Linked DNA regions of Homo sapiens: region 2 is linked to region 1. The links come from fine-mapping of genetic effects on gene expression. A gene starts in region 1. The other region holds a variant in brackets. All regions are shown on one strand. Distances are from middle to middle.

Region 1 (5,367 bases):
ATTGTTATTCCGCATAGGGAGACCAGAAGAGGAGGTGGAAATGGAATGCCGGTTGGTTACATCGGGTTAGGGACCTTTAATTAGTTGCTCAGAGAAGGAACAGCACCTGAGCAAATGCACAGGATGCAAGGCTCCGGGAGAAAGGGCACACTAATCCCAACTGCCAATTACTTTACAAAGCGTGTTTACATTCTAAACTCATTTAATTCTCACAAAAATAATATTGTCAGGTGGGTATTATAATCCCCGTTTTACTCATGAGAAAACAGGATCTGGGAGGTTGAGCGACTTGCCCATTGCGACCATAGGGCAAGTGGTGGCTCCAGGATTCCCATCCAGAAGTTCTGATTCATACTTCAAAGGAGCTCGGAAACTCTCCGGGTGCGCCGGGGAGTCCTGGTTCCGGTGTCCTGGGACTCCTGGGCAGGGTAACGAAACCACTTTTAAAAACTTTGCCGGGCCCGGTGGGTCACATCTGTAATCCCAGCACTTTGGGAGGCCAAGGCGGATGGATGATTTGAGGTCAGGAGTTCGAGACCAGCCTGGCCAATGCGGTGAAACCCCGTCTCTACTAAAAATACAAAAATGGCCGGCCGCGGTGGCTCATGCCTGTAATCCCAGCACTTTGGGAGGCCGAGGCGGGCGGATCACGAGGTCAGGAGATCAAGACTATCCTGGCTAACACGGTGAAACCCCGTCTCTACTAAAAACACAAAAAATTAGCCGGGCATTGTGGAGAGCGCCTGCAGTCCCAGCTACTCGGGAGGCTGAGGCAGGAGAATGGCGTGAACCCGGGAGGCGGAGCTTGCAGTGAGCCGAGATCGCGCCACTGCACTCCAGCCTGGGCGACACAGCGAGACTCCGTCTCAAAAAAAAAAAAAAAAGAAAAAAACAAAAATTAGCCGGGCGGGTAGTGTCGCACACCTGTAATCCCAGCTGGTCGGAAGGCTGAGGCAGGAGAATTGCTTGAGCCTGGGAGACGGAGGTTGCCGTGAGCCGAGATCCCGCCACTGCACTCCAGTCTGGACGACAGAATGAGGCCCCGTTTCAAAAAATAAAAAATAAAAAACTTCGCCAAGGTAGGGAGTAGTGGCTCACGTCTGTAGGATTGCTTGAGACCAGCCTGGGCAACATGGCAAAACCCTGTCTCTTCAAAAAATAAAAAAGTTAGCAGGGCGATTTGGCGCTCACTTGTAGTCCCAGCTACTCAGGAGGCTGAGGCGGGAGGATCACTGGAGCCTGGGAGGTTGAGGCTGCAGTCAGCCGTGATCGCGCCACTGTGCTCCCGCCTGGGCAGCAGAGTGAGGCTCTGCCTCAAAAAAATTAATTAAAAAATAAAAACACGCCGTTAACGAGCGGCTGCGTGCGCGAGGTGGCACACTGGGCTTGCATACGAATTCTGCCAGTGAGTGCTATTAGAGCATCAAGGAGATTCATTTTCCGAGCGACTCCTCCCTTTCCCCCGCCTCCAGGGGGCGTGGCAACAAAGCGCGGGAAAACTCGACCTTGACCCCACCCCCACTCCATGCTGGGGGCGGGGAAAAGGGGAGCCCTTAAATGGGAAATGGAGCTGGCGGTTCCCCCCCCAGCCCATACTTAGGACGCCTATCAGTTGCTCCTTTAATGCCTCTTTGGAAATGGCCCGGCCACGCCAGCACTCCTACGTCACCTCCCCCGCTTCCGGTCCGCGAGCCCTTCCCAACCTTTAGGTCCCGATTCCTTCCATGCTCCAAATCCCGTGCCCCGTCCACGCCCTCCCGCAGAGGGAGGAGCGACGGGTTACGCTGTCGCCCAGGAGCTGAACCGCGCGAGGACCCCATCCATCAGATTATATGGCGATTTAGACGGTGGGAAGACCGCAAGGAAATGGTCAGCGGATGACGTAATGTTTGGGGTGGCGTCCCATTCTGTAACTTCTGTACGGCATCAGTGACACGGGTTTAGCTTGAAACAGCGCAAAAGGACCTACACTTCTGTGCTCCACTCCGACTCAATGCGGTTCTGCTCTCAGTGCCCACCACACAGAAGCTGGGTTCCTTACATTCGCGAAAGTGAACTGCAGCTTCAAGCTTCGAGCGGCCAGTAGGGAGCGAGGGGCGGAGACGCACCTGGGTGCTCCCCCTTCCAGTAGGCAAGCTGGGAAGCAGGCTGGCTTCTTTCTAAGCGACAGTGGCGGAGGCCAATCGTTTACGAGACTCGTAGATGGGGCAGACGGACCCCGGCGCAGCCAATGGGGAGAGGTATCTTCAGAGGGCCTCGGCCCCTTGCCCAATGAGCATAAGAGGACTGTGCGGGGCTAGTTCCGAGCGGCAGTATTTAGGGCCAACCCAGTGCGGGGCTGGAAGGGGCACAGGGCTGAGCGACGGGGGCAAGGGCCAATGGCGAGTGCGAAAACGGGCAGCCCAGACCTGGAGCGCGGAGGGAGGAGAGGGAGTGGGGAGGCCGAACCGGAGAGAAGCAGGAAGTAGCGGCGGCCGCGGGGAGGGCGGCGGTGGCTGCAGCGGCTGGAGCGGGGTAGAGACCGCCGGGTCTCGGCCCGCACCAGGAGCGGAACAAGTAAGCGTGCCTGGGGTAAATACCCGCCCTTGGCTCCGCCCCCTTGGGGGGGGCGGGTAAATACCCCCGCCCCTCCCCCACTTGGTCAACTACCCCCTTCTCCGCGCCGCCCCCTGGGGCGGCTTCTAGGAAGGCCCAGACACCGCCTCCATCCATTGGGGCGGATGGGCGAAACTCCTGGCCTGTTGTAAGCACAGTCCGTAGCCGGGTAAACCCCCAGGAGGGTCGAGAACCCCAGGTCCTGGCGCCCCCGGCTCGAGAGGCACCCGAAGTGCGGCCCGGAGATTGAAGGCTGCGGGATGTCGCGACCTAAAATGGTGTCCGTTCCCGGGGATGGGGGCGGGGGACCTGGGCCAGGCCGGAGCAGAACCTGCACCCCGACTGGGTGCGGGTCAGCGTCCGGGCCCGGGCAAGACTCAGGCTTGCGCCCCCGGCCCCCTGCGCACCCCCCGATCAGTCTCCAGTCTCTAGCGAGCCTCCGGGAGTGCGCGGCGGGAGGAGGCTCCGCTGCGCCCGGAGGGGAGGGGACGAGGTCCGAGTTGGGACGGACCCCAGCTAGAGAGCTGAGAGTCGCGCAGAGACCGTCCCCTCTCTCCTCCCCTCTTTCCAGCTCCCCACCCTATCCTGTGTAGTCCTGGGTCCCCAGGTGCTGCGCAGCAGCTCCCAAAGGGCCTGGCCTGGCTGAGGCCCGGCCTTCGCTTCGCACGCCGGTGCGAGTGAGAGAAGGGCCGCGCGCCTCAGTTTCCCTTGTAGTTTCTCATGTGTACACCCCGCCCCCTCCTCGAAACCCAGGACTTGCTCCCCGCGCCAGCCCTCGGCAGATGGCAGGGACTTAATTCCGTCTGCTACCCAGCTTGGCCTCAACCTAATCGCCGCCAGCCCCTCGCCCTCCTCTGCGCTGCAGGCCTTGGGCCCGGGCAAAGGTCAGTGGAGCCCCCACTCGACCTGGGCCTGTTCAGCCTCTTCCTGTTCAGCCTCTTTGGCTTTTGGGGAACCACAGAGGGAAAGGGGGCGGGGGAGATAGGAGCCCTAGAGACAGGGCTCAGCAGTCGCAGGAAGGCCTGATCCTCCTTGGCTTGAGCTTGGCGGCTTGCTTGGTCGACTGTCTGCTCTGGGTGGGTGGCCATCGGATGACCTCTAAGTCACTGGGGCACCCAAGAGGGAGGTGGCTGGCGGGGTGTGGGGGCGGGTGAGTTCGCAGGTGTTTTCTCCTAGTCCCCGCTGGTCTTCGTTGTAGCAGTCCACTTTTCTGAGTACCTGAGTGGAAGGTAGCTCAGGCCTCTGGTCAGGAGGGAACCAGGCTTAGGAGCCAGGCCTATAGAGACAAGGGTTTTTGTTTAAACCCAGATTCTGCAGAATTGAATAGGGTGGGGGTGAGGGGAGGACTCCCCCTTTGGTTTTGCCCCCACCCCAACCTTGGTCCCAGCAATCCCAGCTGCCACTTGCTGGGACTGTCTCTAGTTACAGTCTGAAGACTGGAGAGAGGTGGGAGAGCTGGCTGGGAAATGGCCTGCAACCTGGGCAGGGAATGGATAGGGATAGACTCTTTAGTTGCTTCTTCGTAGATACAGAAACACTCATGGGGAGACACTGGTAGGGGACAGACCTGGGTCTCCCACAAACTCTGAGCTGGCCTGCTTGTTGGATTAGTGCCACATAATTCTTGTGGGATTTTTAATTTTATTTTTTGCACTTGGCCAGGTTGAGGCTAGGTGAAACTTCCTGGGCTACTGTTGCCACAGGAAAATGGAAAGGGTGAGGAGTTAAAGTTAGGGGATGGAATGGGGTGAGGAGCTTGGAGCAGAAATGATGGGTGAGGGTTGAGGGAGCCTGGCTTTTTCCCACTGTGGCAGCTGTGCTGGAGAAATGTGTATGTATCTTGGGAGTTTTAGCCTCGGGAAAGCAAGATGGGGAGGGGTGGAGAAGGAAGGGCTGGCTAGGGGAGGGCCAGGCACTCTGGGGAAGGTAGTGAGCGAGCAGCAGGTGTTTGTGACAGGAGAGGTCTAGGCTGGGGCCCTTGTGACCAGGCTGCCATCACCATTTTCCCCTCTGTCTCTTCTCTTTGTCTCTTTCTGTTCCTGTGTCTTATTCTTTCCATCTTGGTCTCTTGGGTAATTTCCTTGAGTCCTTTTCTCCCTGCTGACCAAGCTAGATCTCCAGGTGCCAGTGATGGCCCAGGTGCCCTAGACTTGATCCTGCATGACCCCTGACTCTTGCCTCCGACCCCAGCCCTAGAGTTCCAGTGCTTATTCCTTTCCAGTTCCTCCTTGACCTGACATGTCCTTGCTTGGTTCATCTGGAATAGTAAATCGTATTCTTGGTGGGATTCTTACATTAGCAATTTTGTATTATGCTCAGAATAACCCTATGATACATAGATCACTTGTGCTCTCTGCCTTGTCTTGTCTTTTTTTTTTTTTTTTTTTTTTTTTTTGAGACGGTATCACTCTGTCACCCAGGCTGGAGTGCAGTGGCATGATCATGGCCCATCACAGCCTCGACCTCCCGGGCTCAGGGGATCCTCCCATGTCAGCTGGGAGGCATAGCTGGGACTACAGGCACGTGCCATCATGCCTGGGGAGTTTCACCATGTTGCCCAGGGTGGTCTTGAACTCCTGGGCCCAAGTGATTGGCCTCCCAAAGTGCTGGGATTACAGATGTGAGCCACCACACCCGGCCATTTGTGTCCTCTTTCAAACAGCAAAAGTAAGGCACTGAAGAAACTTGCTTGTACTGCACGCCCCTGATAAAGCTGAACGAGGATCATTTCTTAAGTCTTGGCTTATGGCATTGTCCCTTTGTACATGCAGC
Region 2 (5,367 bases), 34 kb after region 1:
AGATGAGACAGCTATCCAACCCTTCATGTTCCACTAGAATCTGGATGACTCTTCTTGTTCTGCAGCAACTTCTCTTCATGACCCAGGGCTCTGCTGCCAAGCTCAACCAGATATGAAAACGGTTCATTCTAGTTCTGACAACAGTTTTGGCTTTGCCTGTGCATGGATGTGGAAGCTCAGATGGCCATAGCCTGGGCCGTTCTTCCCCACATGGCTTCTGACAGCTGGGGACCTTGGGAAGTAGATATTGAGAAATAACCAAGGTAGTTCAGCTGAATGATTATGAGCACCAGCTGGAGATTTGAGTCCTGGTCTGACATTCACTAGTTGAGGGACCTTGGGCAAAACATCTAATCTTTCTAAGCCTCAGTTTCCTTGCTGGCAAAATAATACCTGTCTCTCAGCATGGTTGTGAGGATTAAATGTAAAGTACTTGGCAAGATGCCTGGCACATAAGTGCTGAATAAATGTTAGCACTTTTAGCTTTACCATTATTAAACTATCCTAACAAAATTCCAAATTTCCAGAGAGCAGGCTCTATAGTCTCCCTCCCTCTTCCTTTTCTCTAGTCACTCTGACTTCCCTCTATTTGAAAGAAGTCCCATTGTATCAAAAACGTGGGTGGGTTATATGCCCCACAGAGGCAGATGCCAAGACCATAGCTATCCGCATTTTTCAAAAAGTGCAAATTCCTCCTTTTTTTCTCCCTCTTTTCTAGGCTGGGTTGGAAGCCAGGATGGGAGCCTGGCCAATGGTGAGTCAGAGGGGAGGACTGGAGCACCATTGTCTGGCTGGGACACCAGGTCACTGACACTTGGTAGTCCACTGGGCAGCTTTCCCTGCTATCTGTCCAGATGTGGAGTGAAGAGTGGGTATAACCTATTCATGTGGCCACCTCTTCCCTGCTCTATATCCTAAGTTATACCTCCAACTGCTGCTGTAGCTTCCTCTTCTTCCCAGCCTCCAGGTCCTTGACTAGGCACTATATTTACTCTATACTAAGAGTGCTTTCTCTTCCCTTTGTGCTTCTCCCAAATGGTATGGGAAAGATACCAGCAAGGCACTCTTCCCCCTAAGGAAAGGCAGGCAATGAAGGCATTCTCCAGATGCCTCAGTGATAAGAAATAAACCTTACACTTATGTCAACAAAAGGTAGGATCTTCAGAGGGTAGTGAAAAGGGATTAGATTATGAGGAGGAGTGGCCAGGAGAATGAAGCCGATGTTCTAACATCTCCCCTACCCCAGCACACAGAAAGACAATAGTACCTTTTCCTTTCCCACAGATGCTGCTCTGAGAGGCTCTGGTAGCTATCTCAAGTCTCAGGTCAGGGTGTGGAGGGCTTCTGCCACAGTTCTCATTAACATAGTAGATGTTAATGGAATGGCAGTTTATTTATTTATTTATTTATTTAGAGACGGAGTCTCACTCTGTCGCCCAAGCTGGAGTGCAGTGGCGCGATCTCTGGTCACTGCAACCTCTGCCTCCCAGGTTCAAGTGATTCTCCTGTCTCAGCCTCCCAAGTAGCTGGGATTACACGCGCCCACCACCACGCCTGGCTAATTTTTGTATTTTTAGTAGAGATGGGATTTTGCCATGTTGGCCAGGCTGGTCTCAAACTCCTGACCTCGTGATCTGCCTGCCTCAGCCTCCCAAAGTGCTGGGATTACAAGCGTGAGCCACCGCGCCTGGCCAGTGCAGTTTAATAAAAATGATTTGGGACACAGTCAGGAGCGTCAGCCTTGCCATGACCTATATGACCTGAGGCAACTCACTTTATCTCTCTGGGTCTGAGTTCTTCCTTTGTAAACTAAGGCAGGCAAAATACATGAATTCTAAGGCCTTTCCATTCTAACATTCCATGCTTTTATCAGTGAAATGAAACAGGGAGGACAGAAAGAACAGCGTAACCCTGTGTGTATATAGGAGGCATCCTGTCTCCATGCAGCCCTCTACCACCTTTTGTCTCTGGCCCTCCCCAGAATTTTACCTCATCCTCATTCTCCACTTTAGGGTTGCTGGCTGTTCGTTTCAGGTTGCTGCTGAGACTTATGCTGGCAGTGGCATCTGACTTAGAGCGCTGGTGAGTCCTTTTGGAGGGAGACAGCCCTGTGTCAGGGGCCGGGCTCAAGGAGGGCAGCTCCCTCTTCCTGTGAGCTGGCTTTAGCTCATCTGAGAGGATCAGCTTCCGTAGCTTGGTCCCACGGGAGTGTCGTTGAGTGGAAATGTGCATGTCTGAAGAATAGGCCCCAAGCAACAGGGCACACTGGAGGGAAAAGTTAATGCTCTGGCGGCAACGGTGGACTATGTAGGGCTTAATGGCATCACCCACGTCCTCATCCATGTGGATGTACATGTTAAGCAACTGGGGCAGATAGAAGTCCACGTCCTCGTTGCGAAAGCAGAAGAGCCGGTTGCCAATGTAGGCTTGTACTCCAGGCTCCTTGGAGTTATACAGGTATGAAATGGCCATGGAGATGTCAAACAGTTTTGACTCAAACAGCCTCAGCAGCCAAGACTGTTTAGCTGAGTTGTTCTGCCGCCGTCTTCTTGCTCCTTTGGCTGTGCCTGAGGCCACAGCGGCCCCCATCTCATCTTCCTCCTCCCTGATCTGGGCAGGTGGATCATCTAGGCAACGGATCTCACTGTCCACACCATCCCCATTGACCAACTCCAGTGGGGTGCCTCTGCTAGAGACTGCCACGCCTCCATGCAAAAGCTTGACTTTCTCCAACACCTCCTGGCAGGCCTTCTGGGCCACCTCAGGGTCAATCACTGATAGTTCCCCGACCCCCTCCGTGATGACACTTAGCAGGGACCCCCCATTATTCCCTGGTGGGCCAGAAGTGGGCTCAGAAGTTGGCTTCAAGGGGGCAGGCTCCACTACTGTATCTCCCATGGCCACAGCCAGACTTCGAGCTTCCAAGCTACAGGAAGAGGGAGGGAGAAAAGAACAGAAAGGGAGACACATACACACATTGGTTAGTGGTGCCATCCTCAGATCTTCCCTTTGCTATGACACCTTCCCAGGCACCTCCTCTTTTTGTCTTCCTGGACTCCTTCAAAATCAGATAAGAAGACATATCCTAGGAAGCTTTCCTGACTACCTCCACTTCTGATTACATTACTCGTCATTCCTCCTGTAGTTACTCAGCTTAGCCTCTGTTCTTAGCTTATATATGTGAAATGTTGTTTTGTATATGTTGTATTTATATAGATTTACAAATTCTT[TTTG/T]TTGTTGTTGTTGTTGTTGTTGTTGAGACGGAGTCTCGCTCTGTCACCCAGGCTGGAGTGCAGTGGCGCAATCTCAGCTCACTGTAAGTTCCGCCTCCCGGGTTCACACCATTCTCCTGCCTCAGCCTCCCAAGTAGCTGGGACTATAGGCGCCCACCACAACGTCCAGCTAATTTTGTTTTGTATTTTTAGTAGACACACGGTTTCACCATGTTAGCCAGGATGGTCTCCATCTCCCAACCTCATGATCCACCCACCTCGGCCTCCCAAAGTGCTGGGATTACAGGCGTGAGCCACTGCACCTGGCCTACATTTACAAATTCTTTTTTTTTTTTTTTTTTGAGACAAGGTCTTGCTCTGTTACCCAGGCTGAAGTGCAGTTGAACAATCTGGGCTCATTGCAACCTTGACCTCCTGGGCTCAAGCAAGCCTCCCACCTCAGCCTCCCAAGTAGCTGGGACCACAGGTGCACACCACCATGCCTGGCTTATTTTTAAATTTTTAATCTTATTATTTTTGAGACAGGGTCTTGCTCTGTTGCCCAGGCTGGAGTGCAGTGGCGCGATCAGAACTCACTGTAGCCTTGATTTTCTGGGCTCAAGCAATCCTCCTACCTCAGCTTCCCAAGTATCCAGGACTACACGCATGTGCCTCCATGCCTGGTTAATTTTTTAAATTTTTCTGTAGAGACAAGGTCTCACCATGTTGCCCAGCCTGGTCTTGAACTGAGCTCAAGCAATCCTCCCTCCTCAGCCTCGTAAAGTGTTGGAATTACAGGCATGAGCCACCATGCCTGGTGATTTACAGATTCTTCGGGTAGACTGAGAAGCAAGTCAGGTGTTACTCCCTTGTTCCCTAACTCTTCAAATACTTTTCTATCCACTTGCTCTTCCTGTCTCCCTTTAAATGCCTGCTATAACCTTTTTATTTTCCACTTTAGACTATATTTCCTTACTCATATAACATTCTACACACAGGTCCTGTGCATCTCACCTTTATTTTTATTTTTTAGAGACAAGTCTTGCTCTGTTGCCCAGGCTGGAGTGCAGTGGCATGATCATAGCTCACTGTAACCTTGAACTCCTAGGCTCAAGGCATCCTCCTGCCTCAGCCTCCCGAGTAGCTAGGACTTTAGGTGTGTGCCATCATGCTCAGCTAATTAAAAAAAAATTTTTTTGTGCAGATGGCGTCTTGCTGTGTTGCCCAGGCTAGCTTTGAACGCCTGGCCTCAAGCAATTCTCCTGCCTCAGCCTCCCAAAGCACTAGGATTACAGGTGTGAACCACCTTGCCCAGCCATCTTTATTTAATATTAAAGTCTTGGCTAGGCGCAGTGGCTCACGCCTGTAATCCCAGCACTTTGGGAGGCCGAGGTGGGCAGATCACGAGGTCAAGAGATCGAGACCATCCTGGCCAACATGGTGAAACCCCGTCTCTACTAAAAATACAAAAATTAGCCAGGCGTGGTGGCAGGCGCCTGTAATCCCAGCTACTCAGGAGGCTGAGGCCGGAGAATTGCTTGAACCTGGGAGGTGGAGGTTGCAGTGAGCCGAGATTACGCCATTGCACTCCAGCCTGGAGACAGAGTGAGACTCTGTCTCAAAAAAAAAAAAAAAGGCCGGGCGCGGTGGCTCACGCCTGTAATCCCAGCACTTTGGGAGGCTGAGGCAGGCGGATTACCTGAGGTCAGGAGTTCGAGACCAGCCTGACCAACATGGAGAAACCTCGTCTCTACTAAAAATACAAAATTAGCTGGGCGTGGTGGCGCATGCCTGTAATCCCAGCTACTTGGGAGGCTGAGGCAGGAGAATCGCTTGAACCCGGGAGGCAGAGGTTGTGGTGAGCCGAGATCGCACCGCTGCACTCCAGCCTGGGCAACAGAGCGAAACTCTGTCTCAAATAAATAAATAAATAAATAAATAAATAAAATTAAAGTCTTGATATATTTTTCTGGTTACAGGTATTTTTTTACCTTCCCTTTTAAACTCGAAGTTCCCAGAAAATAAAGGCCAGTAAATACCATGCCAGGCTTCACTTAGAAGAAGGCAGCTCTAAAACAACCATCATCAACCCTGCTGAAGCTGTGCCGTTTCTCTGGTTGTCTGACATCATGACATCACACCCTCTTTCTCCAGT

Evidence for each region.
Region 2: its variant is fine-mapped to the expression of ZNF687-AS1 in whole blood (INTERVAL, PIP above 0.99).

Annotation. Positions count from the first base shown.
Region 1 is chr1:151,279,840-151,285,206 of GRCh38, forward strand. ZNF687-AS1 (ZNF687 antisense RNA 1) reads right to left here and starts at 2,090. Exons shown (of 2, transcript NR_135595.1): 1 at 1,704-2,090; 2 at 185-419. ZNF687 (zinc finger protein 687) reads left to right here and starts at 2,460. Exons shown (of 9, transcript NM_020832.3): 1 at 2,460-2,556. RefSeq lists silencers at 1,340-1,680, 2,362-2,641, 2,922-3,081 and enhancers at 1,423-2,307, 1,802-2,001, 2,032-2,261, 2,308-3,193, 3,502-3,571.
Region 2 is chr1:151,313,584-151,318,950 of GRCh38, forward strand. It overlaps PI4KB (phosphatidylinositol 4-kinase beta), which reads right to left. Exons shown (of 12, transcript NM_001369623.2): 2 at 1,990-2,926. The coding sequence starts at 2,898. Among named protein-coding and RNA genes, the nearest start is that of PI4KB, 11 kb to the right of the region's middle. The variant TTTG/T (reference allele first, on the strand shown) is at 3,231.